Regions from separate parts of the Homo sapiens genome. Here all the other regions are linked to region 3. Evidence: fine-mapped expression QTL. A gene starts in region 3. Each other region holds a variant in brackets. All regions are shown on one strand. Distances are between the middles of the regions. Region 1 overlaps EBF4 (EBF family member 4). Region 2 overlaps EBF4 (EBF family member 4). Region 3 holds the start of EBF4 (EBF family member 4).

Region 1 (9,913 bases), 38 kb before region 3:
GTGGCTATTGGCTACCATATTGGTTGGTACAGAATATTTTCATCATTGCAGAAAGTACTATTGGATAGTGTGGTCTTCAAGCCTTACATTGTTTTCTATTTCTTCTTATTATTATGTAATTATAGATAATCTCTACTGACCTTTCTTCAAGTACACGAATTTTTTTCAAAATTATAAATTGTTGTTTACATAATTATATTTGTCTCCTCAACTGCTCTGTAAGCTCTCAGAGGGCAGGGATCATTGTTTAAGCCTCTCTTCTCCCAAGCATCCATCATAGTCCCAGCCCCACAACAGGTGCTGATTGATTCATGATAGAATTCAAGAGTCAAAAATTACTGTGACTGGATGAATGCTGGACTAAAGCCCCCAAGGCACTTTTAACTTGTGCCCAGGTAAGAAATAACAATTACAGGGACAGGACTTTGGGAATTGCTAAGTAAAGACCTCTGAAAATCCATTCTTCCATAAAGAAACAAGAACACTGGCAAACATGGTCAAAATCAACTTTCTCAGAACTCTAAAAATTAACAACATGTGTGCAACAACTCAAGGAACATTGAGGCAAGAAAAATGGCTGAGTTGTAATAAGAACAGAAAGCTTTGTGGTGTTTTAATTTGCCCTATTCCCATCCCCTACTCCCCAGCCCTGTTGAAGACCAGCTACCTTGCAACCACTATTGTAGTTGTGAAAACTAGCAAGCTAGCAACCATAGGAAGGGGTAGAGTGGGTTTGGAGCCTCTCAACAAGCTGTATTCCCAGTCAGTTTTCACTCTTTAACCTTTCTAGCAACTCCCTGACAGCTTTATTTGCAGAACTTGTTATTTGACCCGATTCAGAACTTACTTAGTGGGAAAGACCCTATCTTCAGGGTGTTTGTTGAAAACAGCCAGCGGCAATTGCTTAACATTGCAGCTACATGAGGCAGCAATACAAGTTGGGGGCAAATAAAAGTTTGGCCATAATATTTTAAAGGAAAAAGTGGGGAATAAGATGTTCACAGGGGCTCTGAAAAGCTCTGACATATTCCTGGAGATCTAGAAAGCTATGCATATGTGCAGGGAGAGGCACATGCCCAAAAAAGGCATGGAAAGCCCCTGGTCTCTCACCTCTGGTTTATCCCAAGGCCCTGAGCAAGCAGGAAGTGAAGGTCAAGGCAGAGTTGTAAATCGCTGGAGCACTGAAGGCATGTCTTAACACACATACAGAACCTTTTGGCAATGGGTTGAACACTTATTGGCATTCAAGGCATTTAAAGAAATGCCTGTCCAATCATGGCCTGATAACTAAGCCAAGAGCAGAAACTTCAGTGATTATACATGACAGGAAATATAGACTTTATATAATTAGTCCAAGAAAATCACTAAACAAACAAACAGCAATAGCAATAAGAACAAAATTGGGAGGGAGGATCTGATTGCCAGAGTGCAACATTATATGATTAAAATGTCCAGTTTTCAACAAACAATTATGAGACATGCAAGGTACAGGAAAGTAAGACCCATACATTGTAATAAAGCAGCCAACAGGAACTATCCCTGAGGAAGCCCAGAGGTTAGAATTTTTAGACAAATACTTTATTAATTAATTTATTTTTGGAACAGGGTCTTGCTCTGTTGCCCAGGCTGAAGTGCAGTGGTGTGATCATGGCTCACTGAAGCCTTGACCTCCCAGGTTCAAGTGATCCTCCCACCTTAGTTCCCAAGTAGCTGGGACTACAGGTATGAGCCACCATGCCCAGCTAATTTTTGTAGGTTTTTGTAGAGACAGGGTTTCACCATGTTGCCCAGGCTGGTCTCAAACTCCTAGGCTCAAGCAATCTGCCCTTCTCTGCCTACCAAAATGCTGGGATTATAGGAGTGAGCCACTGCAGCTGGCATAGATAAAGACTTTAAATGAGCAATTATAAATATGTTCATAGAACTAAAGGAAACTATGTCTAAAAAATTCAAGAAAAGTATGAGAATGAAGTCACACCAAAAAAATCAATAAAGGATTTCAAATTATATTTTTAAAAACCCATGAAATTCTGAAGTAGAAAAGAACAATAAGTAAAATTTAAAAATACCTGGAACAAGCTTCTCTAACCTGCGACCCACGGGGCACATGCAGCCCAGGTTGGCTTTGAATTAGCCTGCAAATTTGTAAACTTTCTTATTATGAGATGTTTTTGCTTTTTTTTTTTTTTTCTCATCAGCTATCGCTAGTATTAATGTATTTTATGTGTGGCTCAAGACAAGTCTTCTTCCAATATGGCCCACGGAAGCCAAAAGATTGGACACCCCTGACCTAGAGGAACTCAACAACATATCTCATTTGGTGGGACGAAAAAAAATCAGTATACTTGAATATAGGCCAATTGAGATTATCTAGCTCAGAAGCAGAAAGAAAAAAGAATGAAGAAAAATGAACAGAGCTTAAGAGACCTGTGGGAGCCATCAAGCATACCAGTATATGTATAATGGGAATCTGAGAAGGAGAGTAGAGATGGAACAGGACAGAAAAATATTCAAGAAAATGCCCCTAAATTTCCTAAATGTGCTCAGTAATGAAAAACATTATTGAGCACATCTTAAGAAGCTCAGTAAACTCCAAGTAGTATGAACACAAAGTGTATGATCTATACAAAGACACATCATACTCAAACTTTTGAAAGCCAAAGAAAAAGAAAGGATCTGAGAAGCAATGAGAGAGAGAGAGAAGTAACTCGTCATATATAAGGAATCCTTAATAAGATCACCACATAACTTCTGAAACCATGAAGGACAGAAGGCAGTGAGATGATATATTGTGTTAAAAGAAAACAACTATCGACCAAAAAATT[G/C]CATGTCCAGCAAAACTATCAACTTCTAAAATGATCAACTTCAAAAATGAAGGAGAAATTGAGACATTTTCAGATAAACAAAAACTGAGAGGATTCATCACTAACAGGTTTGTCCTACAAGAAATACTAAAGGGAGTCCTTCAGTCTGAAATGAAACAAGACAAGACAGTAATATGAATTAACATGAACAGATAAAGAGCACTGGTAAAAGTCACTACATAGGTAAACATAAAAGACAGCATAAATGTATTTTTGTTTGTAATGATTTTGTTTTCCTATCTAATTTAAAAGACAACTGCACATTTGTGGGGATAGGGGATATATGGGAACTCTTTATAATTCCGTCTCAAAAAAAAATAAGAAAAAGAAAAAATAAAAGAAAAAGAAAACACAAAGCACAATGGCAGACATAAATCCTGTTCTATCAGCAATTACATTAAATATAAATGGATGAAATGCTTCATTAAAAGGAAGAGATTGGCAGAATGGATTAAAAAAGAAAACTACAACACAATCCAACTATATGCTGTCTATGTGAGACATACTTTAAATTCAAATGTACAAAAGGCTTTGAAAATAAAGGGATGGAAAAAGAGATAACATGTGAACCCTAACTGAAAGATAGCTGGAGTGGCTATACTAATTTATGAATAGACACTAAGATAAAAATTATGAGAGACAAAGAAGGACATGTTATAATGATAAAAGTGTCTATCATCAGAAAGAAATAACAATTATAAGCATGTGTATCTAATAACAGTCCGGGTGTGGTGGCTCATGCCCATAACCCCCGCATGTTGGGAGGCTGAGGCAGGCAGATTGCTTGAATCCAGGAGCTCAAGACCAGCCCAGGCAACATGGTGAAACCCCGTCTCAACTAAAAATACAAAAAATTAACTGGGTGTGGTGGCATGCACCTGTAGTCCCAGCTACTCAGGGGGCTGAGGTGGCAGAATCAGCTGAGCTTGGGAGGTTGAGGCTGTAGTGAGCCCTAAGGCTGTAGTGAGTTGAGACTGCATCACTGCACTCTAGCCTGGTCAACTGGAGTGAGACCCTGTCTCAAAAGAAAAAAAAAAAAAGCACATGTATCTAATAACAGCTCCAAAATGCATGAAGCAAAAACTAACAGAATTGAAGGAACAAACAATAATAACTGGCAACTTCAATACCCTACTAGCAAGAATGCATAGAACTATTAAGTTTGACTGGGGCCCAACCTAGCATGCAACTGATAAAGAAACTCACATTCTGTGTGTTGAAGCTCTGCACACACAATGTGAAGTGGCAAGTGAAAGGTGAGGTACTCCTGGCTTTAGCTCTATTCCTAAGAATTCACGTTCACATCCCAGAAGCACAAGGCCCATCAAGTCACAGGCAGATGGAGGCCTGGATTCTGTGCCAGTTCCCTGTTCTAAAAGGAATACCATAGATTACAGGGGTTTGCTTAAGAGAGAGAGGCATCTGGTACCCACGGACAGAGAAAAACTTGGTTTGTTCGTAGGAAGAAGGACAGTAGAAGTGGCCAGACAGATGTCCGCAGCAGAGAATGCTGGCTGTCCCCGTTATCTAGCTTCCTTCCTTTCTTTTCATGATAGAACCCTCTGAGTCTTACCTAGGTTGAGGGATGCCCATTTAGACGCTATCTTTCCCAGCCTCCCTTGCAGCAGGGTGTGGCTAATGGCATGAGCAGAGGTAAGGTGGGACCTTTAGGTTATGTCTTTATAAGTAAGCTGCATGCCCTATTTCTTCTATCCCCTTTTGGTATCTCTGAGCCTGTTTGGGCTATACAGATGAGGGTGTCACCTTAGGGGAGAGCTGAGGAAAAGACTGCTTGGTCCTGGATGACTTTATGGAGAAGAGCCACCCTGGACTGATGCCCTGGACTGTTTTGAGAGAACTAAACAAATATTTAAGCCACCACATTTGGGGATTCTTTGTCACAGCACATTATGCTAACTTACAGTGTCATCAAACAGCAAAGCTGGGCTGGGCACAGTGGCTCATGCCTGTAATCCCAGCGCTTTGGGAGGCTGAGGCGGGCGGATCACGAGGTCACGAGATTGAGACCAGCCTGACCAACATGGTGAAACCCCGTCTCTACTAAAAATACACAAATTAGCTAAGCATGGTGGCACATACCTGTAATCCCAGCTACTCGGGAGGCTGAGGCAGGAGAATTGCTTGAACCCTGGAGGTGGAGGTTGCAGTGAGCCGAGATTGCGCCACTGCACTCCAGCCTGGTGATGGAGCGAGACTCCATCTAAAACAAACAAACAAACAAAAAACCCAGCAAGGCTGGTAGGAGGGAAATGAGATGGGCTTTATGATTGGAGCACTGACTGATAGGATGGTATATAAGAAGTCTGGTGGAGAAGAAAGCGAATGCTTTCTACCAGCAGAGCTGCTGCACAGCCGACAGGGCCCTGCGCGTCCTGTTTTTGCAGAGGGTGGACAGGCCAGCTTCGCATGCCTAAAGGGAACAGTGCTTCATGTATGTGTGCTCATGAGTCTCTCCAGCAGTTAAGGGGACAGCAGAGTCCACAGAGCTTGTTTTGAGTGATATGGTGGCTTAAGGATTACTTGTATAGGGGACGTCATTGTTGCCTCACCCCAACCCCCTTTACTGGGGGTAGTGAGTTGAATGGTGGCCCCCCCAAAAGTTATGTCTACATCCCAGAACCTGTGAAACTGACTTTATTTGGAAAAAGGGTCTTTGCAGGATCTGGAGATGAAATCAATTTGGATTATCTGAGTGGGCCCTAAATTTAGTGATGAAGTCCTTATAACAATAGGATAGAGGGAGATTAGACAGAAGAGGAAGAGGCACTGTGAAGATGAAGGCAGGGATTGGAGTGATGCCGCCACAGGGACTGCCAACAGAATCCAGAAGCTAAGAGAGGCAAGGGAAGATTCACCCCTAGGGCCTTTGGAGGGAGCACGGACCTGCCAACACCTTGCTTTTAGACTTGGCCTCCAGAATGGGGAGATAATTAACATCTGTTTTAAACCACCAAGCTTGCAGTAATTTGTTAGGACAGCCTTAGGAAACTAATACACTAAGCAAGTGCATTCATCCCCCAGCTGCAAAGTGCCCTCAGCCACAGGGCACCTGGAAATGCCAGGGGTGGTTATTCCCTCACCATAGGGCTGGCCGGCAGCCTCTGACTGACTTGCTCTCAAAGAGCTGCCAAAGACTGTGTCCTTGCCACAGAGTGGGATCCACATTCCAGAGCTTCCAGTGGCTCTGAGGCTGGAGGTTGGACTCCAGTTCAATGCACATCCTTACTCAGCTCTGCTGCCTGCCTCCTCCTGCTTCCTTCACTCCCTGTGAGGGAGGAAATTGAATCCCCACCTCAGGTTCTGCTTCTAGAGGGTAACAATCTCTATAGATAGTAACAACCTCTACTTACTACTCTTTGTGTAATAGGATGTGAAAACGGACTCTTTTTGTCTTGGTTTCAGCTGAGGTCTCAAAGTTAAGAACGACAATGTAGCTGCTGGACCACCTATGCTACCCGGTCATAGACTGTCCTTGAGCTCATCATCTCTCTCTAGGGTGAAAAATAGGAACTGTGGTAGGTGGAGCTCTCAAGATGCTGTAGCTCCCCCCATCTCAATGGGGAGGAAGTGTGGGGTGTGTCTGTCTCACTTCGGCCTAGTAGGGGAGCTTCAAAAGGACTGCTTGCAGAAGTTGACAAGCATCCACTAGAATTCAAAGAGCAGAGAGATCCATACTAAATTCATACTTGTGAAGTTTATCAGCAAGAGGCTGGGGAAAGGCAAGCTCATCCTGAGTAGCTAAGCGGGGCCAGACATTGGTGGGGGTGGCTTTAAGAACCGGATGCTGTTTCAGAGCTGATTAGGGCAAGGACCATGCCTGTTTTTCATCAGCCAGATTTGGGTTCTTTGAGCGTGGCTGGCTGTGAACTGTTGCGAAAATGCGCTCAATAGGAGTCGGCGAAGGCTTTCAGTCAGGAGTTCTTAACCTTTTTTTTTTGGTGCCATGGACCCATTGAACCCATTCTCAGCATATTGTTTTCATATGTACAAAATAAATTCATAGAATTATAAAATAAACCAATTATATTGAAAGTTATCAAAAAACATTTTAAAATGGTTATATAGTTATATTCACACTTTATTAATTTATTAAGTAATAAGATCTAGTAGCTGTTCTAACAACTACAGTAATCTTGAAGTGGCAGTGAGTATAATGGGATTTCAAAATATCTGCAACAGCTCTACTATGATATGGAAATTAACCATTCTAGTGATAAAATTACACAGAGTATTAATACTATGGTGATCTGTTGCCCATTCCCACCATTGAAGGAATGCTAAAGATTAGCTAAAGGTTTCCAGGACTGGAAACTGTGTAAAAAAAAAATGGAATTTTCCCATCTAAGTTCCCAGAACTCTACCTATGGACCCACAGGTATTCTTGTAGACCTCAGGTTAGGAATCCTGCTGTGGATAAAGAATCAGGTCTAGAAGCTGAGGGGATCACAAAAGGCCATCAGAGGGTCCTGGATGGGGGATTTGAGAGATCTACAAAAGCTCAGAAAGAAAGCCAGGGTTATTCACCATTTCCAGAGGCACAAATGACAGATTGCCACTGTGTCACCTAGGAACACCTTGTCCCTTCAACCCCCCGCCCCCGAACCTCTTTTCCCTTCAGCCACCTCAACCATGGAGGTGACTCTAGACTACAGGTAATAAGTAGGGGTGAAGGTGAATGAAGAAAGGGAGAAGACCCTTTTACCAAACCCATCCTCACCACTAAACCCAAGGCAGGACCAAGCCAGGATGACGAGATGCTTTAGAATCAGACAATCTCTGGAGTTTGTTACACTCCTCTGGACATTTTCTTACCTAAGTGATCAGAGGATTTTTATTTCATGAGAGTGGTGGAAAAAAGATGAAGGAATAGTCCATTATTTCATCCAGGGATGGAGAGAAATGATCTCACCGAGCAGGTTTATAGGGCAGTTGTTAGAAATGGTAAAGCTGCTTTTGTTTGCACCCTTCTTAGTGCAACTTATACAATAAATGAATTACATTTTCAAAGCACTTTAAAGACTTGGTATCATAAATATTCCATTTCCTCCAGGTTAATCTGAGTTAAACATGATTTCAATAAAAGTGACACAATTAATAGGGTGAAAAGGCAACCTGTAGAATGGGATAAAATATTTGCAAGTCATATATCTGAGGAGGGGTTACTATCTAGAATATAGAAGGAACTCCTAACACTCAACACTCAGAAAACCCCCAAATAATCCAATTTAAAAATAGGCAACGGATCTCAATGAACATTTCTCCAAAGAGCATGTACAAATGGTCAAGAAGCATATGAAAAGATGTTCAACATCATTAGAGAAATGCAAATCAAAATTATAATCAAATATTACCTCACACCCATTAGGATGACTACTATAAAAAAGATGATAAGTGTTGGCAAGGATGTGGGGAAACTGGAAACTTTGTTGGTGGGATTTTTAAATGGTGCGACCTTTTAAATAGAAAACAGTATGGTGGTTCTTCAAAAAATTAGAAATAGAACTACCATTGATTCAGCAATTCCACTTCTAGGTATACAGCTGACCCTTGAAAAACACAGGTTTGAACTGTCTGGGTACACTTATATGTGGATTTATTTTAACCAAATGCAGATTAAAAAATACAGTATTCAAAGGATGCAAAACCTGCTTATCAGAGGGATGACTTTTCATATATGCATTTCTGCAGGGACAACTGTGGCACTTGAGTATTCACAGCTTTTGGTACATGTGTGGGCAGGATGGGGAACCTGGCCAATCCCTGCATATACTGAGGGATGACTGTATATCCAAAAAAATGGAAAGGAGTAAGATCTCAGAGAGATATCTGCACACCCATGTTCATAGCCAAGAGATAGAAGCAACTGAAGGGTTCATTGATGGATAAATGTAGTATATACATACAATGCGATGTATGTATATAATAAAATATATATACATGTTATAAACATATAATATATAATAAAAGGTGGTATATACATATAATGGAATATTATTAAGCCTTAAAAAGGAAGGCAATCCTGTCACATGTTACATGAATGAACCTTGAGGACAGTATGCCAAGTAAAATAAGCCAGTCGCAAAAAGATAAATGCTATGTGAGTCCACTTATGTGAGGAGTCTAAAGTAGTCAAATTCATAGAAACAGAGGGTAGGATGGCAGCTACTACGGGCTGGGGGGAGAGGGAGATGGGGAGCTGCTTAATAAATATAGAGTTTCGGGTTTGCAAGATGAAAAAGTTCTGGAGATCTGTTGCACAACAATTTGAATATAACACTACCGAACCATACTCTCATGAATGTGAAGATGGAAAATTTTACGTTATGTGTTTTTTACCACAACCTAAAAAAATGACACCAAGAAGTTATGTTTTGGTGATCTAGATAATCTAATTGTAAAGTTTGTGTAACAAATAATCAAGAATATTTGGGAAAATTCTAAAATATAAGAGTAATGGGGGAAAAGGACTAGATCTACCAGTTATTAAAACACGTTTAAATCTTCAAAAATTGAAACAGCATCATATTTCTTTTTTTTTTTGAGACAGGGTCTTTCTTTCTCACCTAGGCTAGAGTGTAGTGGTACAATCATAGCTCACGGTAACCTTGAACTCCTGGGTTCGAGTGATCCTCCAACTCAGCCTCTTGAGAAGCTGAGGCTACAGGAGTACACCATCACCCCTGGCTAATTAAAAAACATTTTTGTAGAGACATGGTCTCACCATGTTGCCCTGGCTGTTCTCAAACTCCTGACTTCAAGTCAGGATTCTCCTGCCTCAGCCTCTCAGGTAGCTGGTACTACACCTCACCTCCTGCCTTGCCCTCCCAAAGTGCTGGGATTACAGGCATGAGCCACTTTGCCTGGCCACAGCATCATATTTCCCCATGAAAAACAGATGGAATAATAAAATTGAATGAAAAGTCCAGAAAAACATACAATTACATTTGGGAACTTGGAATATGATGTGATTGATATTTCCAATTGATGGAAGAAAGATGGATTATTAAATAAATGCTCTTGGGGCAACT
Region 2 (9,913 bases), 51 kb before region 3:
GCTACAAAAATAAAGACCCCTGAAAAAACTGGCTCCTTAGGCAAAGAATGGCTACTGTTTTTGCATACACAGAATGCTGGGTTGTATCCACGGACCTCCAAGCCAGGAATGGGGTCTTAGGCAAGTGGAGGTGGGCAGCATCAGCCGGAGAACTCAGCAGCAGGAGCCCCTGCCCTATTCTGGGGAGAAAACTGGGGCTGCCTTCTTCCCCCGCCCTGCACTGAGAGGGGTGTGCAGCTTGGGGATGTGCTAAGGGCAGCTGCTCTCCGCTTCACGCTATGCAAATTGCCTGGGTCGTTAATCATGTAAAAATGTCACAATTAGCATCTTCTTAAGTGGGACTCTAATGAAGCCTCCCTTGGCAGCCAGCACAAGTTGAGAAGGAGCTGCCCCACCCCCAGCAGGCACCAACCAGGCTGGGGAGGCACAGGGCTGGGCAGAGATCTGCCTTGGAGGCCTTTCCCAGGGTGGCAGGGTCACAGCCTTCCCTTCCCCCTCCCCTCCCCTCCATCAGGAAAGGGTGGGGTTGCAAGGGGAAACCCTCTCTCCAGACCCACCTGGAAGCGGCGCATGTCTCTGGGATTCCCCGCATTCTTCAGGCAGTTCTGGTTGCATTTGAGGAAGAACTTGAGGAAGAACCTGAAACAGTGTGGTCGGTGGGCTCAAGGGTCTGGGGGTTCTGGAAACAGATGAAGATCCAACTGCTCCCTGCCATGCCCCCTCCCCACAGGATGAGTCCCCTCTGCCTGCTCCCACTCAGGCACACATCCCATATTCCCATCATGGCCTCCATATACCAGGGTGCCTGATACACACCAGACAGACCCATCACAATGACAACTTCGCTATACAACCATACACACCGTGTGCTGATCACACAGGGCTTATTTATGCCACAAAGTGTATACTTAGCACTCCCACACAGTATATATTCACCATGAAGAGTAAGTCCATTATATACACTACCTATACTTATTACTCATTATACCCAACGCACTGTATACCCATCACACATACAATATATGCTCCGTATGTGGCGTGTACGCACACATACCCCATGTAATGTTATCACACACTGTGTATACGTCACAGTATATGCTCATCACCCATATAGCACATCTGTTATACAACACATCCCTCCCCAGAGTATACCCATCACCCACACCATGTACACTCCTCAGACACAGCACATTCTTTGTAGACACTGTTTATGCCTTGGATACTATTACTCACAAAATACAGCCATCACACACACTCGGGGTATAACCTTCACACAAGCATAAACAACATGTACTCCACATATAGCCTGCACTCATCCCACACATATGGCATACTAAGCAGACACAGAGCCTGTACCCATCATGCACGGTGTATGCCCACCCTACACAGTATATGCACAGAGAAATAGGAAATACACAGAACAAATACATTAATACGCATTTTATGTTGTAAATGATTACCCAAAATATAGTTATTGCAAATACTGTAAAGCCATCCCATATAGCAGATGCCCCCAGCAAATTCACCTCCCACATGGCATATCCTCCTCCCACACATTTTATATCCATTATACACATAGGAAAAGCTTAATCATACAGAGCACATACCCACCATATACACATGGTGTATCTGTCAGACATGTGGTACAGAGACACCGTGAATGTCTTCTTTTTTACATAGAGTTATTGGGAAAAAAACACATATGCGCTGATGAGGTTGCTTTTTAGACAAACACATGAGCACTTTGTCCTCCTCTCCTTCCTGGCAGTTGGCTGGGAGGGTGGGTCCTTGGTCCTGTCACCTACCAGTAAGGTAGCCATGGACAACATTCTGGCTGTTGTACTCTTTTTTTTCCTGTTTTTTTTTTTTTGTTTGTTTTGTTTTTTGTTTTGAGACAGAGTCTTGCTCTGTTGCCCAGGCTCGCCATGTCTCACTGCAACCTCCACCTCCTGGGTTCAAGCAATTGTCCCTGCCTCAGCCCTTGGCTTCCCGAGTTACAGGGGATTACAGGGGGATCACAGGGGCCTGCCACCACGCCTGGCTACTTTTTGTAGTTTTAGTAGAGACGGTGTTTTGCCATGTTGGCCAGGCTGGTCTCGATTCCTGACCTCAGGTGATTCACCCACCTCGGCCTCCCAAAGTGTTGGGATTACAGGCATGAGCCACTGCACCCAGCCCTGTTTAACTCTTGGTAAACTCGGAATATGATCAGTGTCTGCCTTATGCCTTATAGCACTCTGTGAGCATCTGGGAAGATACCCTTTACAAACTGTAGAGTGCAGGGCTAACGTCTGCAGTAGGTCCTGATATGTGGAACAGCCTCCTGGGCCACTGTATGAGTTTCTCCAGTCAGTCAGCTTCCTCATTTTACCTCCACCCAATTGGGAGATATTTTTACCATACTATTTACTAAAGCAAATACAAGAGTCCCAAACCTGGGGTGGAACTTTAACCACGGTATAGTTACTCATGTACTACTTATATACCCCAAATTTGAATGTTCATTTAATTCACCAGAGTTGCCTCCAAAGTCTGCAAACATTAAATTTCTGTTCAGAGGAAAATTTGTTACAGGTCCTGAAAGCCCAGTCCCCAAAAAGGAGGTCACCAAGTGCTGGGAGGAGTAAGCACCAGCCCTGGAACTGAGGTGTCCCCAGCAGGCAGCCCCTCCTTGGGAGCTGGTGGCAGTCACCTTCCTAGAGATACCTCTCCCTGGGGTCCTGCCTCTGTCTACATTCTCAGCACTTGTCATGTTCCCCCACAGTGGGCACCCCCTATATTTCCCAAATGGTGCACCCCTACAGTGTAGACAATCCATTTACCCCTGCAGGATACCCTGCAGTGCAGACAGCTGTTATGCCCCCAAACAGTAGTCACCAATGTGTAGATGCCATATATATCCCTATGGGTCACCCCAAGGTGCAGACACCTTCAGTGCTCCTGAGAGGTACACCTGCACAGTGGGCGCACTCCATTTCTCTCTTATTAGTTACTAATCACTCCCTACACCCCTTATGACACCCCATGGTGTAAACACACTACACCCACATGTGCGACATGTTCCTCATCCATGCCCCACATTCACATGTGACAGAGTATAGACTCCCTACTCACACACACAGGCAGACCAGCTCATTTAAATTAAGTACTCGTGTGCTCGGTCCTTTGGCAGGTGCTAGATGGAGGGAAAAACACCAGGATGGGGCATGGTCTCTGTCCTAAAGGGATTGAAGGCTCACCTTTGGATACCACTGAAGATGCGACAAGCATAGGACTGCACCAAAAGATGACACATGTGCCCACTGCACCCCACTCCACTCAAACCTACAGGATCAAGAGGAAGGGTCCTTGGGAAGGGGCCAAGATAGGGGCTCTGGCCAGGCCTGGACTCTCTGCATGACCCGGGGTAGGTAAATCCTTCCACACCCATGAAGGGAGAGTAGCGATTGACGGCTGCCGTGACACCTTCTAGTCCTGCCTCTGGGACATCCTTTACTTCTGCCCTCCCCAAGGCTGTGGTTTCCTGCTCCCTCACTGGCCCTTCCCCAAGCCTTTGCTCAGCAGGTCTTGCCACTGTCCCTTTACAGTACAGGTTTCATTTGTCCTTTGGGTCCACACCAATTCTCACGCCCTGTACAGCCACCATTTTCTGGCCACTCTAGGTTTCAAGGACCACCCCTTTCTGAGAGCCCTAGGGACCTGCCAGCACCTCTGTCTATGGGGACACCTCAGTGTTTGAGCCTGGCTAGCATTACCTGCAGAGTGTGGGTGAGTAAAAGCAGCTGCACAAGACCATGGCCTGCAGTGGGGGCTGAGGGTCAGTCCCCTTCTCCCTTCCCTTTGGGCCTGTCCTCAGAGCTAGCACATAGTCGAAACCATCCATGGTGTGGCTGAAACCTCACTCCCTTCCAGCTGGTAGTCCACGAGGCTTCTCCCAGTCAGAGAGCCTGCACCACCCCCTAAGACCAGCAGCGTCAGCGTCACCTGAGACCTTGCTACAAGTGTAGAATCTCAGGCCTCCCCTCAGACCTGCTGAGTCAGAATCACATCTCTGCATTCATACGCCCTCCAGGTGATGCTGGTTCACCCTGAAGTTTGAGAACTACCGCACTGGAGCTGCGCTACCCATTACTATAGCCACCAGCCCCACGCGGCATGAACCCTTGCAGTGTGGCTAGTCCGAACTTGAGATGTGCTGTAAGTGTAAAACACACATCAGATTTCCAAGACTTAGAAAAAAAGAATATAAAATAATTCATCAGTAATCTTTTATGTTGATTTCATGTGGGAATGCTCATCTTTTAGATATATTGGGTTAAATAAAATGCATTATGATAATTAGTTGTATCAGTTTCTTGTGGCTACTGGAAAATTTAACATTACATATGTGACTTGAGGCCTTGCTCAGTGGCTCGTGCCTGTAATCCCAGCATTTTGGGAGGCTGAGGTGGGTGGATCGCTTGAGGCCAGGAGTTTGAGACTAGCCTGCCCAATGCTGCGAAACTCCATCTCTATTAAAAATATAGAAATTAGCTGGGTGAGGTGGTGCATGCCTGTAGTCCCAGCTACTCAGGTGGCTGAGGCACGAGAATTGCTTGAACGGGGGAGGTGGAGGTTGCAGTGAGCCAAGGTTGAGCCACTACACTCCAGCCTGGGTGACAGAGTGAGACCCTGTCTCAAAAAAAAAAAAAAAAAGAAAAGAAAAAAAGAAAAAAGAAAAGAAAAAAGCATATTTACATACATATGTGGCTTGCTTGCATTATATTAATATCGGACAATGCTTCACTGGAGTGTATGTCTCTAGGGGAAAGTGACTCGCATTTACTATTGATTGATTGGAGCACAGACTATAAAGTTAAGTGCTAATTTGTAGAAAACTGATAAGATACAAATGATATTTGTCAGTGGGAGCTAAAAATTTTGATGACCTGATATAAAAATTAGCCGGGCGTGGTGGCAGGCGCCTGTAATCCCAGCTACTCGGGAGGCTGAGGCAGGAGAATCACTTGAACCCGGGAGGCGGAGGTTGCAGTGAGCTGAGATCACGCCATTGCACTCCAGCCTGGGGGACAAGAGTGAGACTTCGTCTCAAAAAAAAAAAAATAAAAAAAATAAATAAAAACTTTGATGACCTGGAGGTAGAGCATGGAAAGACAGATAATAAAGACTGGGAAGGGTGAGTTGGGGGGCAGGGAGAAGAGAAGTGGGTTATAGGGTACAAATAGCAAGATAGAAGGAATAAACTTGATGTTTGATAGCAGAGTGGGGTGACTATACTTAGCCAAAATGTATTGTACCTGTGTGATGGACACCCTAAATATCTGGATTGGATCACCACACATTGTATACTTTCACTTGTACCCTGTGAATTTATACTCCCCGCCCCCAAATTCATATGACTTGGAAACAAATGATATTTGTCAGGAGAAGTAAATAATTTCTGTTTGGTGGAGAAATTAGCCCTAAAGATGATAAAATTGTCCTATGGACATTAACTAGCTTTATATCTAATTTGGCCATCTTATTCCAGTATTTTCCACACAATCCCTTGCCTCTCCCTCCCTCCCCTCAACCCCTTTCCATATACGCACGCACTCACACACTCGCACATGTATCACTTTCTCTTCGTCTTCTTTGAATCAGCTTTGTCATCCCATTGGTTCCCTCATCAATAAGTTATAGAAAACTTTGATACATGCTCAGTAGCAATTTGTATGAGAATCACGCTTTTGACATTTTGAAGACTGTGCTTTGGCAAAGGTGACCCGCCCCTAAAGGCTCCTGCCTTCCAAGGCTGGACCTGGAATTAGAGGACTTCCGTTGGGGTCTAGAACCAGGAGCAGTGCCCGGGCTCTCCCCTGGACCTAGAGAGACTGCCGACCCTCCGGGTGCCGCTGCCTGGTCCTCTCCTTGCCCACCAGGGGGAGACAGACACACCGCAGAGGCTGGAAGGGCGAACGTGAGAACAACCCAGGAGAATTCTCCCTTGGCTGACGCCCAGGGGGTGACACTTTATTCCACCTGAGCAGTCAGGGAAGGATGAGAATGGAGTCAGGGAAGAAGAAGGAGGGGCAGCAGGTCCTCCAAGCCATGTCTGCACAGAGGCCAGATGTGGGGGCTGGGGACTGGGGGAGAGTGAGAGACCTGGTGGGCAGGGGAGTTGGAGGGAGACACACACATGGAACACATGTGGACATGGGAACTGCGGGCAGGTGTTCCCCTTGAAAGAAGAGAGCCTGGGAAGGGGCTGGGTAAGTGAGGACAAGGTTCTGGGCCTGGGACACCCTGTAGGGACTTGAGGCAGGAAGGGATGTGCACTTTGTTGAGGGGCTTGAAGCCCTGCTTGTCAGCATGGAACCACCCCCCACCTCTAAAGCTTGGATGAGCCTGGGGGTGTTCTCTGAGCACCCCTCCCCACTCCTGGCCCTATGGGGCTGAAAAGGAGTCTAGGAAAGCCCGTTTTTCCTGACCAGGATGGGGGCAGGGGGCAGGGAGTGGGGAGGAGTAAAGTGAGCCCAAGTCCACAGCCCTCTCTGACCTGAGGATCCCCATGGAGGGTGACCACTGCAGGACCAGTGCCCAGTGCCATCCCACTGTGGCCATGAGGCTCTTGGAGGGCATGGCTTCCTAATCCAGACCCCACAGAAAAGGGAGTAAGGGAAAGGCCAAGTCGCAGAAGCTTCCATTAGGATTACTGGAAGAAAACACCATAAATACAAGCATGACTTACAAATGAAATGCATTAGGGAGGTAACTATGCAAAAACAAAACAAACAAACAAACAACAAAAAAAGAAAAACAGGGAACCAGGTCTAACCCATCAGGCACTCAGCACCTTAGCAACTGCCCAGAACGCTGCTGAGTTTGTCACTTTGGCATTATCTTGCTCAATCCCCCAGGTCGTGTCGGTCTGCAACCATTCCCACTTTACGGATGAGAAAACCAAGGCTAAGCTATTGACTGTGACTTGACAAAGTCACAGTCAATGCTAAAGTAAGGATATGAAAACGGGTCTTTATGAACCACTGATGCCGACAAGAGTCCTAGAAGTCCTTCTAAGTGGGGCTCTCAGAGTCCGACCCAGGCTGGTACTGCAGCGGCAAGCCTGCCTTCAAAAGCAGCTCTGAGAGGCAGGCTGTGTGGGGACCAGGATAGTATGTTGTGGGGATTTCCTCGAGGTTACAAATTCAACAGGGTTGCAGAGGTCAAACTCAGGTCCTCTTGCTCCTAGTTTTGGGCTTTTGGCTGTTGTGACTGCTGCTATCAGTCGAGAAGATCTTCAGTATTAAAAAACAATGGAACCAATAGTTAAAAATTGTTCTAGCTCATTGGGGCTATATGGGCTTCATTATTCCATTCTGCCTGTATTCCACATTCTCAATAAAAACTTTAATGAAAGACCAGAAGAAGAGCTGTGAACAGTGGTCATCCAACTAATGAAGTATCTAAAGGATGGTAGTTATGCATCATGACTCTGATGCCTGTGACTTAAAGGAAAGCTCAGAGTAGTTCACCCACACACCCACCTTACCACATC[C/T]TGAACTTGGTTTAGCCTTCGTAATCATGTCTATAAACGCTTTTTATTCCTCCCCATAAAAACAGCTCAAGATGAAATGAAAAGAAACGTCTTGTCCATGGAGTATTTCCTACCAAAGAAGCAAACTCTGGGTTGAGTATGGCTAAAGTGCAAACATTTAACTTATACACTACTTCTCAGGGGTGACACCATTGCATTAACTCCCCAAGCACAGTGCTTTACTCAAAAGAGACACTCAGTAGAGAAGGCAAGTGTGAAGGCAATTGATGTGAGTCCACTGTTAAATTCTAGGTTTTCAGGGGGTAGAAGGCAGAGTGGGATGGAGCTGCTTTTTTTTTTCAGTCAGGGTCTCGCTCTGTCACCCAGACTGGAGTGCAGTGGTGTGATCTTGGCTCACTGCAGCCTTGACCTCCCAGGCTTAAGTGATCCTCTCACCTCAGCCTCCTGAGCAGGTGGGACTACAGGTCACACTACCATGCTCAGCTAATTTTGTTTATTTTTTGTAGAGACGGAGGTCTCAGTACGTTGCCCAGGCTGGTCTCAAACTCCTGGGCTCAGGCGATCCTTCTGATTCAGCCTCCCAAAATGCTGAGATTACAGGCATGAGCCACCATGCCTGGCCTGGAGCTTCTTTTGGAAGACAACGTCCAGGAACTTTACAGTGAGTTGATGCCTGCCTGATTCCCTCATGCCCCAGCTGCAGTGTAGACTGTCAAATGGCTCGCAGCTGCCCCAAGGTAATCTGAGAATTACCCTCAGCCAAGAGCATATACTCCCCACCAGTAGCCCACAGCCAATGACAGATTGACATTACAAGGAGGACCAACTCTCTGGCCATTCACACTCCAGACCTCTGCATGGGATAGGCTGACGCTAGACTCCGACCGAGACCACCTCCTTGTTAAACTCCCTCTATACTCATTCCTTTTCTCCTGAGAGCTCTCCTTTGATAAACCTCTTTCACAAGAATCCCCATCTCAGGCTCTGCTTCCAGGAATCCCACCCTAAGAAAACTTAGGTCACAGAGCTAAGGCTTTTCACCAGCTTTTTCTTCCCTGCATCCCCATGAGATACTTAGGGCTGAAATTATGTTCTCACTTCCAAAGAGAAAGCTGTCAGTAACTCAAAGAGCTGGAAGGAGAGCCCGAGTGCATTTTCCACTACAGGTCTGTCAGGGGCAAGGAAGAACGTGTCTAGATTACAGTGCTCCCTAAGGGAACTTTTTCCAGAATGATATGCATTAGCCACGCATGGCTACTAAGCACTGGAAATGTGGCTAGTGCAACTGAGGAACTGAATTTTATTTCATTTTAATTAACATAAATCTATTTTTTTTTTGAAACGGAGTCTCGCTCTGTTGCCCAGGCTGGAGTGCAGTGGCGTGATCTCGGCTCACTGCAACCTCCACCTCCTGGGTTCAAGCGATTCTCCCGCCTCAGCCTCCTGAGTAGCTGGGACTAAAGGCGACTGCCACCATGCCCAGCTAATTTTTGTATTTTTAGTAGAGACAGCGTTTCACCATATTGGTCAGGCTGGTCATGAACTCCTGACCTCTGGTGATCCACCCGCCTTGGCCTCCCAAAGTGCTGGAATTACAGGCGTGGGCCACTGCGCCCAGCCATTTTAATGAACATAAATCTAAATAGTCACATGTGGCTCGAGACTACCATATTGGACAGTGCAGATCTAGAAAGAAGGTATGCAGTGAATGGATATACGAGCTGGGGCAGGATGTTCCAAACAACAGTGTGTCCTGTGAAGGCCTTGGGAAAGACAGCAGGTTAAGAGTGAAGGGTAGATTAAATTGGATATGTGTTTCCAAGCCCAAAGCTGGCACTGCAGCCTGAGATGGGGAAATAAGGGGACAGGGATCTCCGCTAATTTTTATCCTAAAAGATTTGTCTTGGGCTCCCATGAGCCTCCGAAGAAACTGAAGCAGTTTCTGGCTCTCCAGCGTGTTCACTGTCTGCTTCTCTCTACCCTCAGCTCAGGGACAGAGGAGGACACAGAGGGCTGGGCCATTCATCCCCTCATTCATTCCATACACCCACTTAAAAAGATTTATTAAATACCTTCTATGTGTTAGGCACTGCGGCATTGTATAAAATCTTAAGGAAATTACAACCCAACAGGAAAGAGAAACTCAGGAAGACAGAGTGGTGGGCACGGCAGGAGGATGTGCCAAGTGTAATCTGCAGTGGCCACTTATTTTGCCTAGGGGAGGCGGAATGCTTCCTAGAGCTCCAATTTGGTCTTGGGTGATGGGTCTTGGAGGATCTCACCGAGAAGTAGGAGGCAGGGCCCTCCATGCAAAGGGACTAACAGCTCCACCACGGGGCAGACGGCTCACTCGATCAGTGGTGCCTGACAAGACTG
Region 3 (9,913 bases):
GATCTCAGAGATAACGTCCTGTTGGCTCAGGGCAGGGGCAGGGGGTCCTTGTGCAGACTTCCCTGGTAGGAAGACATTGGTAGGGAGAGGGCAGCCCTCTCCACCAGCGTTCCCATCCCCATTGCCTCCAGTTTAAGGGTATGCAGCCCCTCTGCTCTCCCTACCCCCTTTTTCTTTCTTTCTTTTTTTTTTTGAGACAGAGTCTCGCTCTGTCACCCAGGCTGGAGTGCAGTGGCGCGATCTCGGCTCACTGCAAGCTCCGCCTCCCGGGTTCACGCCATTCTCCTGCCTCAGCCTCCTGAGTAGCTGGGACTACAGGCGCCCGCCACCACGCCCGGCTAATTTTTTGTATTTTTAGTAGAGACGGGGTTTCACCGTGTTAGCCAGGATGGTCTCGATCTCCTGACCTCGTGATCTGCCTGCCTCGGCCTCCCAAAGTGCTGGGATTACAGGCGTGAGCCATCGCACCCGGCCCTCCCTACCCCTCTTTTGCTCAGAACTTTCCTTCCTGTTGGCAGAGCCTCCCTCGCTGATCTTAGCAGGCCTTCTGGGCCTTTTCCTCCCCACCCACCTTCTGTAAAATCTTGGCATTGTTGTAAAAGTCAAGCTGTAGAACTGGGCAGGAGAAGCTGCTCCAGTAGCTGATTCCTGGGTCAGGTAGAACCTGGAGTCTTCCAAAGTCAAGAGGGGAACCAATATAAGGGGACTTGGGAGCCTCTGAGAAACATTACTGCTTCCTCCGGCAGACAGTCATCACCCCCATCCCCCATGGACTGCCTGAGCCTGCCCTGGGTGCTGTGGACACAAGGATGAACGGACCGCTACCCTTGCCTTAGGGGAAGGCCCCAGCTGGCAGGGCAAGGAGGACCGGGACAGGCAGAGGAGAGCAGATGCTGGCCTATGGTAAGCATTCGTAGGCAGCATTAAAGCCACTCCCGTGGGCAGGGTGGGAGGGCACAGAAAGAGCAGTTGCTGGGGTCGGTGGGTGTAAGAGGGAGTCCTGAGGCTGGTGAGACTTAATCCAGGGGATGTGCGGGTGCTGAGGGCAGAGGGATTGTTTCAATAGACCATAGCACTTACTGGAGGCGCAGCTAATTCTCCAAGTATCCACTGCCTGCCAAGCATCATGCAGAGGAGGCTGGGGAGGAAGGCTGGAGTCAGACCATGATAGGCCTTGAATGTTGGAGATATCCATGAGGAAGCAGTGGGGCTTGGGGGTTGGTCACTTTATTTTATTTTATTTTATTTATTTACTTATTTATTTTTGAGGCACAGTTTCACTCTGCCGCCCAGGCTGGAGTACAGTGGTGCGATCTTGGCTCACCGAAGCCTCTGCCTCCCGGGCTCAAGCAATCCTCCCACCTCAGCCTCCCAAGTAGCTGGCACTACAAGCATGCTTCACCACGCCCAGCTAATTTTTGTATTATTAGTAGAGACAGGGTTTCACCATGTTGGCTAGGCTGGTCTCGAACTCCTGGCCTCAAGTGAAACGCCCACCTTGGCCTCCCAAAGTGCTGGAATTACAGGCGTGAGCCACCGCGCCCAGCCTGGTCACTTTATTTGTAATCGGAGAGAGACATGATCTTAAAAAAGTACTTTGGAAATACTGCTTTGGTCCCCAATGCAGGGAAGATGGTTTTAGGGGAGTGGTGAATGGCTGGGGCTAGGCACTGGGCCAGGAGGCTGAGGTGGTAACCAGGGTGCAGTTAACCTTCAAGCCAGGGAGGAAGCGGGTGGAGGGCCAGGGGGTTTCATTGCTAAAAGTGGTGGCTGAGGGCACTGAGATTGGGACTAGGACACGGAAAAGAACATTCCTAAGCCTTGACAATCAGGCAACTGTGGGGTGAGGCTGAGGAAGGTGTCAAAGCCAACTCTCGGATCCCAGGGAGTCTTTTGGGAGAGCACTTCCGTGAAAGTTTCTCAGAGATGAGAGGGAGAGAAACCAGGCCGTGATGAAGGCGGAGGCAGGGCCAGGGGGAGGAATTTTCATTGTTGCTGTTTTGGGATGAGAAGACCCGTGCAGAGGACTGACTGAGGAACCAGATACAACTGTAGTGATGACAGACAACACGGGGAAGAGTGGGGAGGAAGGATGAGGCAGCTCCCTCTGGGACAGGGAGGAAAGTCAGCTGAACAACAAAGCGAGTGGGGGCTCCTAGTCTATGTCCTGAGACAGAGAAGTCTCCACACTTGGGGATTAGCAGACCGAGCCTGAAGAAAGCCCCTGTTCACATTGCGGAAGCCCTCTGCATCCCAGCAATGTGGCCCTCACAATGTGGGGAGTCAGACTGGACACCCCAAGCCCACTCAACCCCACTATGCGCAGACACCACTGCTGTGGCCCATGCTCTGGGGGAAGCCTTATCCCCACACTTCTTGAACCCCACGCAGTCTCCAAGGGCACTGCCTCCTTCACGTCTGCTTCCCCTTCATCAGACCTGCCTCTGGGTAGGCACAGAGGGAAAGGTTGCAGAGAAATGGAACCTTAACTCCCAGAGGCCCCCATCAGCACTCCTCACCCACTCTTACAAAGAGCTCTCGCCACACAGCAGGTGGTGGGGCCAAAGAGGGGGCCATGTTAAGAAACTAACCTTCTCAAGTTGAAAAAAAAAAAAGCCAGAACCAACAGAAGAATAGGCAGGAGGTGGAATTGTAAGCATAGCACAGGAAAACACAAGTTAATGGGAAGAAAAATAGGAAGGAAATACACTAAAATGTTGACAGTAGTTGTATTACAGAGGAGGGACTAAATTTTTTATTTTCCAATTTTTCTAGAATATAGCTATATCCCTTGTAAAAGTTTTGGAAATTAATTCATCCACAAGACCCTTTCTCTTCCGTAAGAGATCAGCTCCAGAGCCCCCCAGCGTTCCCTCCCGACAGCCAGGAAAGGACCGGCGTGCAGAAACGGCTTCAGTTTGCACATGAAGCGCGGTGTGTGTCTGTTACACGGTGAGGTTGAGGCGTCCTGCGGAGTGTGAATGTGGGCTCCTGTGTCAGGCCCGGTCTGCATTAAGCCCCCCATTCAGAATCCCTTCGGGCTGCTGCAACAGCTCAGACTTCTGGGAAGCCAAGTGCCCACCCTGTCCCAGCTGTCAGCAGAGCTGGCACCTCCCTAATCCTAACCACTGTGACTCCCCATAGGATACCTAAATGCCTCCCTCCATGGTCACAGCTGAAGGTGCAAAAAGCCAGGGGGTGCAGGGGCTTTGGGGGCAGGTCAATAAACTTTTAAAGTTCGCTTTCAAATCCTGGAGTCAACCCCCTACTGAGACTCCCAGACCCCTGCAAAGGAGTCAGAGGAGACCGGCGCGGGTGCTGGGTTCCCAGGGACTCTCTGCCTTCCAAAGGACCTACCAGAAAAACACCCGAGGGAAAGGCAGGGGCCCTGCCCAGTTCCCAGGCCAATCAGTCCAGCCAGGCCGACTGCCCACCTCATCTCTTCGCCACCGTCCAGCCCCCAGCCGCTTCTCTGGCTCTGCACACCCCCATCCGCCAACTCTGAGGGGCGTGGGAAAGGAAAAAGGGGGCTGGGTTTCGTGCCTTTCCTGACAGAGAGCTGCGGAATTGGACAAGGAGAGTCACTGGGACTGCCCAGGAAGGAGGGGCTGGACGTTCCTAGACGGCCGGTGGCTGTGGGTCATGGCTGGGAGCTCTGCCTCTTCTCTCAGAGCCATAGACAGCCCGGCTGGGGTGGCGTTCACCGCCGCACCCGCGAGCGGCCGTCAGAAATCTACCGGGGCAGCCCGGAGTGGAGGCAGAAGCCCCGCCCCAGCCCGCCCCACAGCCTCAGGAGGCAGCACAGGCACTCCGGACGGGGTGGGCCGGGGAGCTCGCCGGGACCGTCCAGAGTTAGGGCTCCTTCCGCCCCTGGCTCCAGCAGCTCCAGCAAGCTGAGCTGAGGCGGCGCGCAGCCGTCCAACCCGAGCGCACCGGGTCCGGTCCGAGCGCTTACCTCTGCGCCGCGGTGCTGGCGTCCAGGATGCCCGCGCCCTGCATCCAGGAGCGCACTGAGCCCAGGCCGGCGGGCAGCAGCGGCTCCTCCTTCAGGTTCAGCCCGCTGCGGGGCAGAGCGTCCTGCGCAGGGAACATGAGGGCGCGCGGTGAGTGAGCGCCCCCGCCGCCCCGGATCCGGTCCCGCTGAGGCTGCGGGCGTCTAGCTCAGCCCGACCCGACGGCACCAGGCGCCTCCAGCAGCGCAGCGCCGAGTCCGGGTGGCTCAGTGCGCGCTCGCCTCTTGGGCGCTCCCTCGGAGAAAGCGGGTCCGCGGGCGCCGGCGCTGTCCCCTCCCCTCCTGGGGCGCTGGGCGGGGAGATGGAGGGATTCCCCCGCGGCCTGAGCGCTGGCGGGCGGACTGCGAGCGGGGCGGGGAGGGCGGGGAGCGGAGCCCGCACCCGGTCCGCGCGGAGGCGCCCCAGAGGCGCGCTCTGGCGGCTGCCCGGGGCCGCGGTCGTCGGAGGGGGGGCCCGAGCGCCCCGGGAGCTGCCTCGGGCAAGGCGGGGGCGCGGGGCCGCCCGCCCTTTCCCCCTCGCCGCCCCCACCTCCCGCCCGCCCGCCCGCCCGCGGCGCCAGCGCGGGGCGCTGATTACCATCCGGGAGGCGGAGGCTGCGGGCGCGGAGCTCGGCGGCGGCGGCGACAGTGGCGGCAGCGGCGGCAGGAGCAGCAGCAGCCGCGCGTCCCGGGGAAAGGCTGGGGCCGCGCCGGGCCAGCAGACGCCGCCGCCGCCAGCGCCAGCGCCCCGCGTGCCCCGGCGTCCCGGCCCTGCCGTAGCCCCGGGCGGCAGCACCTGGAGCAGCAGCAGCAGCAGCCCGGCCGACTCCCCCCGGGGCCCGGTTCCCGCGCCGCCCCGCCGCGGCCGCCGCCGCCCGCCGCTCCCCGGGGCCTGGCCTCGGGCCCGGGCCATCCCGCCGCCGCCGCCGCCGCCGCCGCCGCTCCCGGGGGAGCGGTAGCCGAAGGGAGGGAGCGCAGGCGGGAGGAGGGATGTCGGGAGCGGGCGGGCCCAGGGGACGGGGGCCCGGGGGAGGCGGGGGCGGGGCGGCGCGGCCGGCCGAGGGGCGGCCGGGGACGTGACATCATCGGGGGAGGAGCGGCCGGGCCCGGGCCGCGGCGGCGGGGCGGACCCTGGCGAGTCGGTCGCCTGGGCTGGGGGCTGCGGCCTGGTCGAGGCCGCGGGAGGGAACGGAAGAGCCCGGCGGGGGCCACGGAAACCCGCGCAGGGAGGATCCGGGGCCGCGCGGCGAGGGAGCCCGGCCCGAGCGGGAGGTGCGCGCCCCGCTGCGCTCGGGAACCTCCGCGGCCTCCCCGTCGCCGCCGGACGAAGCCCCGGCGTCTTCGCGGCCTCATCTCCCTCCCCCGGCACCCGCCGTACTCTCCGCGCCCGACGCCTTGTGCCTGGACTTGCTGCTCATTTTGACGCCTCCGAGCTTTCGCTCTTGACGTCTTTCTCCCGCGTGACTGTACTCCCGCATTTCCCCGGCGACCCTGACCTCACTTTCACCCCAGCTAAGGACTGAAACGTCCCTGCCGTAGGCTGCGGCCCCAGACAAGCTGGGCGAGGTCCCTGCATCCAACCATCCCGATTCCTGATGCTGGGTTACCTAAGCCTAAAGCATTTTCAGTTTCCATCTGTGCCTTTCAGGAACCTCCTGATTTCTGATTGCGAGTTGGACAGGTAGGCTCAGAGCCCAGCTCACCTCCTGTTTCTCCCCAGCCGCGTCCCGTCTCAGATCCCATTCCTTTTTTTTTATTAGTTCCTGGCACAGAAGTCGTCTGGCCCTTGACCGTGGGGCAGAGACATTTCTGCCCCTCTCCCCACGTTGTCCTGGCCAGGCTTCGAGCAAGCCCAGACTGAGTCCAGCACTTTCCTGCAGAACAGCATGGGGGCCACCTGCCCTGCCTGCCATGTTCACGCTCAGACACCCCTGCAATAACACCTTCCTGCTCCAACTCACTCCCATCCTCTTCTGGGGGGCCTCCAAGTGTGAGTTAGCGTTCTGTCACACATTGGCCCAGATGAGGCGTCCTGGGGGCACTGCTGGTTCTCCTGCCATCACAGAGGCCCTCTCACCTCCTTTCCTGGTCTCTTTACCACCCCTTCTCTCTATGCCTCTCCCCATCACCCACAGGGGGCTGCCATTCCCACCAGGACTCCTTCAGGTCTCAGCTTTTACCCTAGGTGGGATTATCAAACATGGGTTTCTCCTTAAGACAATTCTTAAGCCAGTCTCTTTCTCCATCTCCTGATCTGCCTCTCTAAATCTTGCTTCTCACAGTGTGGTCCCCGGACCAGCAGCATTGACATCACCTGGGAGCTGGTGAGGAATCCAGACTCTTAGGCCCTGCCGGGACCTGCTGAATCGGAACCTGCAATTTACCAAGACCTGTACACACATTACATGTGAGAAGCCCCCCCAGAGCTGTTCCACACTTGCTCCACTCCTCTCCCCAACATTCAGACCCACCTCTGGCTCTCTCATTTCCAGCAGACACCCTTCCTCTTACCCAGTGGAGAGGACTCAGGGAATCTTGGCAGAACCCTGCTGGCACCATCAGCGGCGTATGCTCCTCCTCGTTTCTGTCTTTTCACCCGTTCTCTTCTCTCGGTCTTCCACTGTGGAGATGGATGTGGAACCTTTTTGCTTAGTCCTGTCTTCTGCCTTTCCTGAGATTACCCCACCGATCTCCTGTTTGTGTCTCAATATGTTCTTTTCTCTGCTCAGATCTCCCCATTCTTAAAAGAACTGTCCCCTCCTCCTCGCCTCCTTCTTCAATTTCTGCCCCTCCTGTGTCTGAGACCGTTCACAGGAACGCTCTGCCAAGGATGCCTGACTGGCCCCCAGCAAGCCACTCCTGGGGCCCTTGTGTGCTGGCTCCCTTCCAGCCCTGCCTTCCTGCTTCTGCTCTCAGACTCCGTGGTCTCTCTTGGGCTTCAGGGCCTGGGACCTCCTGGCAGCAGTGGGCTACCCCACCCCCCAACCCCACACACACGGGAAACCACCCTGGTGACCAGATATATATATATATATATATATACACATATATATATGCATGTGTATGTATTTACACACACCTGGGAAATATATATATCTGGTGTATATATATTTACACACACCTGGGAAACTGCCCTGATGACCAGAGCACACTGTCTTTCTCCTCTGCCCTCTGAGCACCTCAAGCTGCTGTGCCTGGCGCTCTTCTTCTGTTCTCCCCTCACAGAATTCACGTTCCTCCACAGTCTCAGAGAACATCTTTGAGGAAATGGTCTCCCCATATGGGACTCTCACTTCTGTCAGTCCTGAACATCAGTGGGTGAGGACAGGGCTGGGCTTGGCCCTCAGAGAGGAGAGGAGCACCTGCCTCCGGGGAGGGTCCCTATCCCAAGAGGCTCTGTCCCTAGGCTGGGATGGGGCTTCTTGGTCTCCACAGGTTCACTCTCCACCAGCCAGCTCTTCTTCCTGACTCCCCTGTGTCTGTGCTGGGCACCTCCTCCTGCTGCCCACCAGGCTTGGAGTTTGGGAATCATCTCCAATACTTTTCTCTCCCTGTCCTGCAGCTACCTGTTTGTTTGGTCTTAACGGGTCCCCCTTCCCTTTCCTCCCTACCCCAGTGCCCACAGAGAATATCTAACAGCAAAACGTACTTTTCCTCCACTGGACTCCACCCTGGCTTGGAGCAGATATGGAATTCCCAGTTCTGCCCACAGCCTCCTCCCTTAGCTCCCGTCCCCAGCTGCTCACCCCCAAACACCCCCATCCTCCTGCCACAGTTTTAAAAAGTGTTGCTTGGATTGGGCCATCGCCTGCTTAGAAACTTAAATGTCTTTTGTGGCTTCTCAAATAAACATTTAGGCCCTTAGTTTGGGAACATTCTAGGCCCTTTGATGCCCTATCCAATTTCTCTTGCCGGCCAGCCTTACCTCCACTCCCTTGCTGTGTGAGTTTCTTGCTTATCCAGCATGGGAGATCACACCGTTTCCCAAACCCAGCTCCCTGTCTCCCAGCTCCAGCCTTCATGCTGGCTGGCCCTTCCTGCCGGAATGCCCTCACTTTGCAGCATTCCTTTTTGTGATGGTTGAAGTGATTTGGTTGGAGTGCTTTTCATTCTGGAAGGTTGTCCCCAAGATAGATTGGGGGATAGATGCTCAGAATTAACCTGCGCAGAAGGTGGAATCAGTCAGCCCAGGAAAGTGGCACTGAGTTAAGGCTCAGTCATAGCTGGGGCAGACTCCCAACTTGCGTGGGTTTCTGTTCTATCCTAACCACATGGAACAGAAAACCAGCCAGGATGGTGTTTGAGGCTTCCCAGAGCCTGCAGCCCCAGAGAAGGGCTCCTGGGTTAGAGCTGCTGAACCAAGGGGTGATGAAGGGAGGAAGGTCAATGAGCAGTTCTGGGGCAGCACTTGGGGGTCAGAGGTGAGTGTCTCTGCTTTAGATCCAGGTGAAAGTCTGTTGTTTCTTGGAACCCTCTGTGCGCTTTTATTTTGCATTAGTTATCTTATTTTTTAACCTTTTATTTATTTATTTTTTTAGAGTCAGGGTCTCACCCTGTCACCCAGGCTGGAGTGCAGTCGCGCGATAATAGCTCACTGCATCCTCAAACTCCTGGGCTCAAGTCCTCCCTCCTTAGCCTCTCAAGTAGCTGGGATTGCAGGTGTGCACCACCATGCCTGGCTAATATATATTTTTTTTTTTTGAGACAGAGGTCTTGCTATGTTGCCCAGGCTGGTCTCGAACTCTTGGCCTCAAGTGATCCTCATGCCTTGGCCTCCCAAAGTGCTGGGATTATAGGTGTGAGCCACTGTGCCGGCCATGCATTATTTATCTTAGTTCCTTTGTATATTGTCCCGTTCCAACTGCTGCATCTTCTCCATGAGAAAGGAATTTGGTGGGTGGGGTGGGGCGAAGTGCTCCAACTGTGGCCACAGAGAGCTACAGGGGTGGTGATGACAGAGGAAGCGTGGTGCACGCCTGCAGAGAATGCCACTCTTTTCTGGCAGGGGCTCACCACAAACCCTTAGGCCAGAGCCTTGGGTCTCATTCTACCCTTTCATTGTGCTCATGTCCACGAGAAGGGCTTTTTTGTGAGTGGCCAGTGCTAGAGAGTGAGCAGATAATGAAACCCAGGTGGCGCCCTTATGAGCTCACAGTCAGGTGGCAGGAGACTCATGAATGCTCAATGTCACTCTGGAGTGACCTGGGCTGTTACAGAAGCGGAGCAAGTCCTGGGACAAGCACAGAAAAAGGGCCTGAGCCTGAAGGTGAGGAGGGGCCCGGGAGCAGCTTGTGTAAGGACTAGCAGAGCGGAATGAATGGGTTTGCTGCACTTCCTTCAAGGTGGAGGTTTTAGCACCCAGCACCGGGAGGGTCATGCTGGTGCCTAACATGCCATGCTAAGGAGTTTGGACATTTTTTCTGTAGGTCTAGTCATAAAACAATGTTTTTTTTTTTTACATCAGCAGAACTCCCCCACGCCTCCGCCGCCTTAAGCGGGTGCAAACCGTATAAAACAGATAGGAAGTGGTGAGTTAGGCTGAGGCGCGCTTGGCCACGCTGTGTGTTGGGCCATAGCGCCCCCCGGAGGCCCCAGAGTGTGATGCCGGCACTTGGATCCACTTCCTGTCAGATCCCCGATGGTAATTAAAATGAAAGGAGGAATACAAAAACTAAAGCGCGCATTAATTATGGCAATTCTCATAGTTCCATGAAGAAATCCAGAATGACAAGGGCCATCCAAGAAGGTGGTCTGGTAGGTATGCGCCAGCTCTGGGCCTTCCTCGCTGTTGATTCCTGAGGCCTCTTCAATTGCTTCAAGAAAACCCCACACCACAAGTATTAGTCTTGCCTTAGGATCCATTCCATCCCACATCTAGGCCCAGTTATTCAATCTTGAATAATAAAACAATAGGAGCTATCG

Evidence for each region. PIP is the estimated chance that this variant, and not a neighbour inherited with it, causes the effect.
Region 1: its variant is fine-mapped to the expression of EBF4 in whole blood (TOPMed, PIP above 0.99).
Region 2: its variant is fine-mapped to the expression of EBF4 in whole blood (TOPMed, PIP above 0.99).

Annotation. Positions count from the first base shown.
Region 1 is chr20:2,726,093-2,736,005 of GRCh38, reverse strand. The region is part of intron 6 of EBF4 (EBF family member 4); the gene reads right to left. Among named protein-coding and RNA genes, the nearest start is that of EBF4, 38 kb to the right of the region's middle. The variant G/C (reference allele first, on the strand shown) is at 2,826.
Region 2 is chr20:2,739,275-2,749,187 of GRCh38, reverse strand. It overlaps EBF4 (EBF family member 4), which reads right to left. Exons shown (of 17, transcript NM_001395167.1): 7 at 558-639. Among named protein-coding and RNA genes, the nearest start is that of EBF4, 51 kb to the right of the region's middle. RefSeq lists a silencer at 5,843-5,892. The variant C/T (reference allele first, on the strand shown) is at 7,538.
Region 3 is chr20:2,687,825-2,697,737 of GRCh38, reverse strand. It overlaps EBF4 (EBF family member 4), which reads right to left and starts at 4,958. Exons shown (of 17, transcript NM_001395167.1): 1 at 3,956-4,958. The coding sequence starts at 4,092. LOC105372507 (a long non-coding RNA gene) reads left to right here and starts at 5,118. Exons shown (of 3, transcript XR_937210.3): 1 at 5,118-5,672; 2 at 6,274-6,398. RefSeq lists enhancers at 1-329, 2,803-3,787.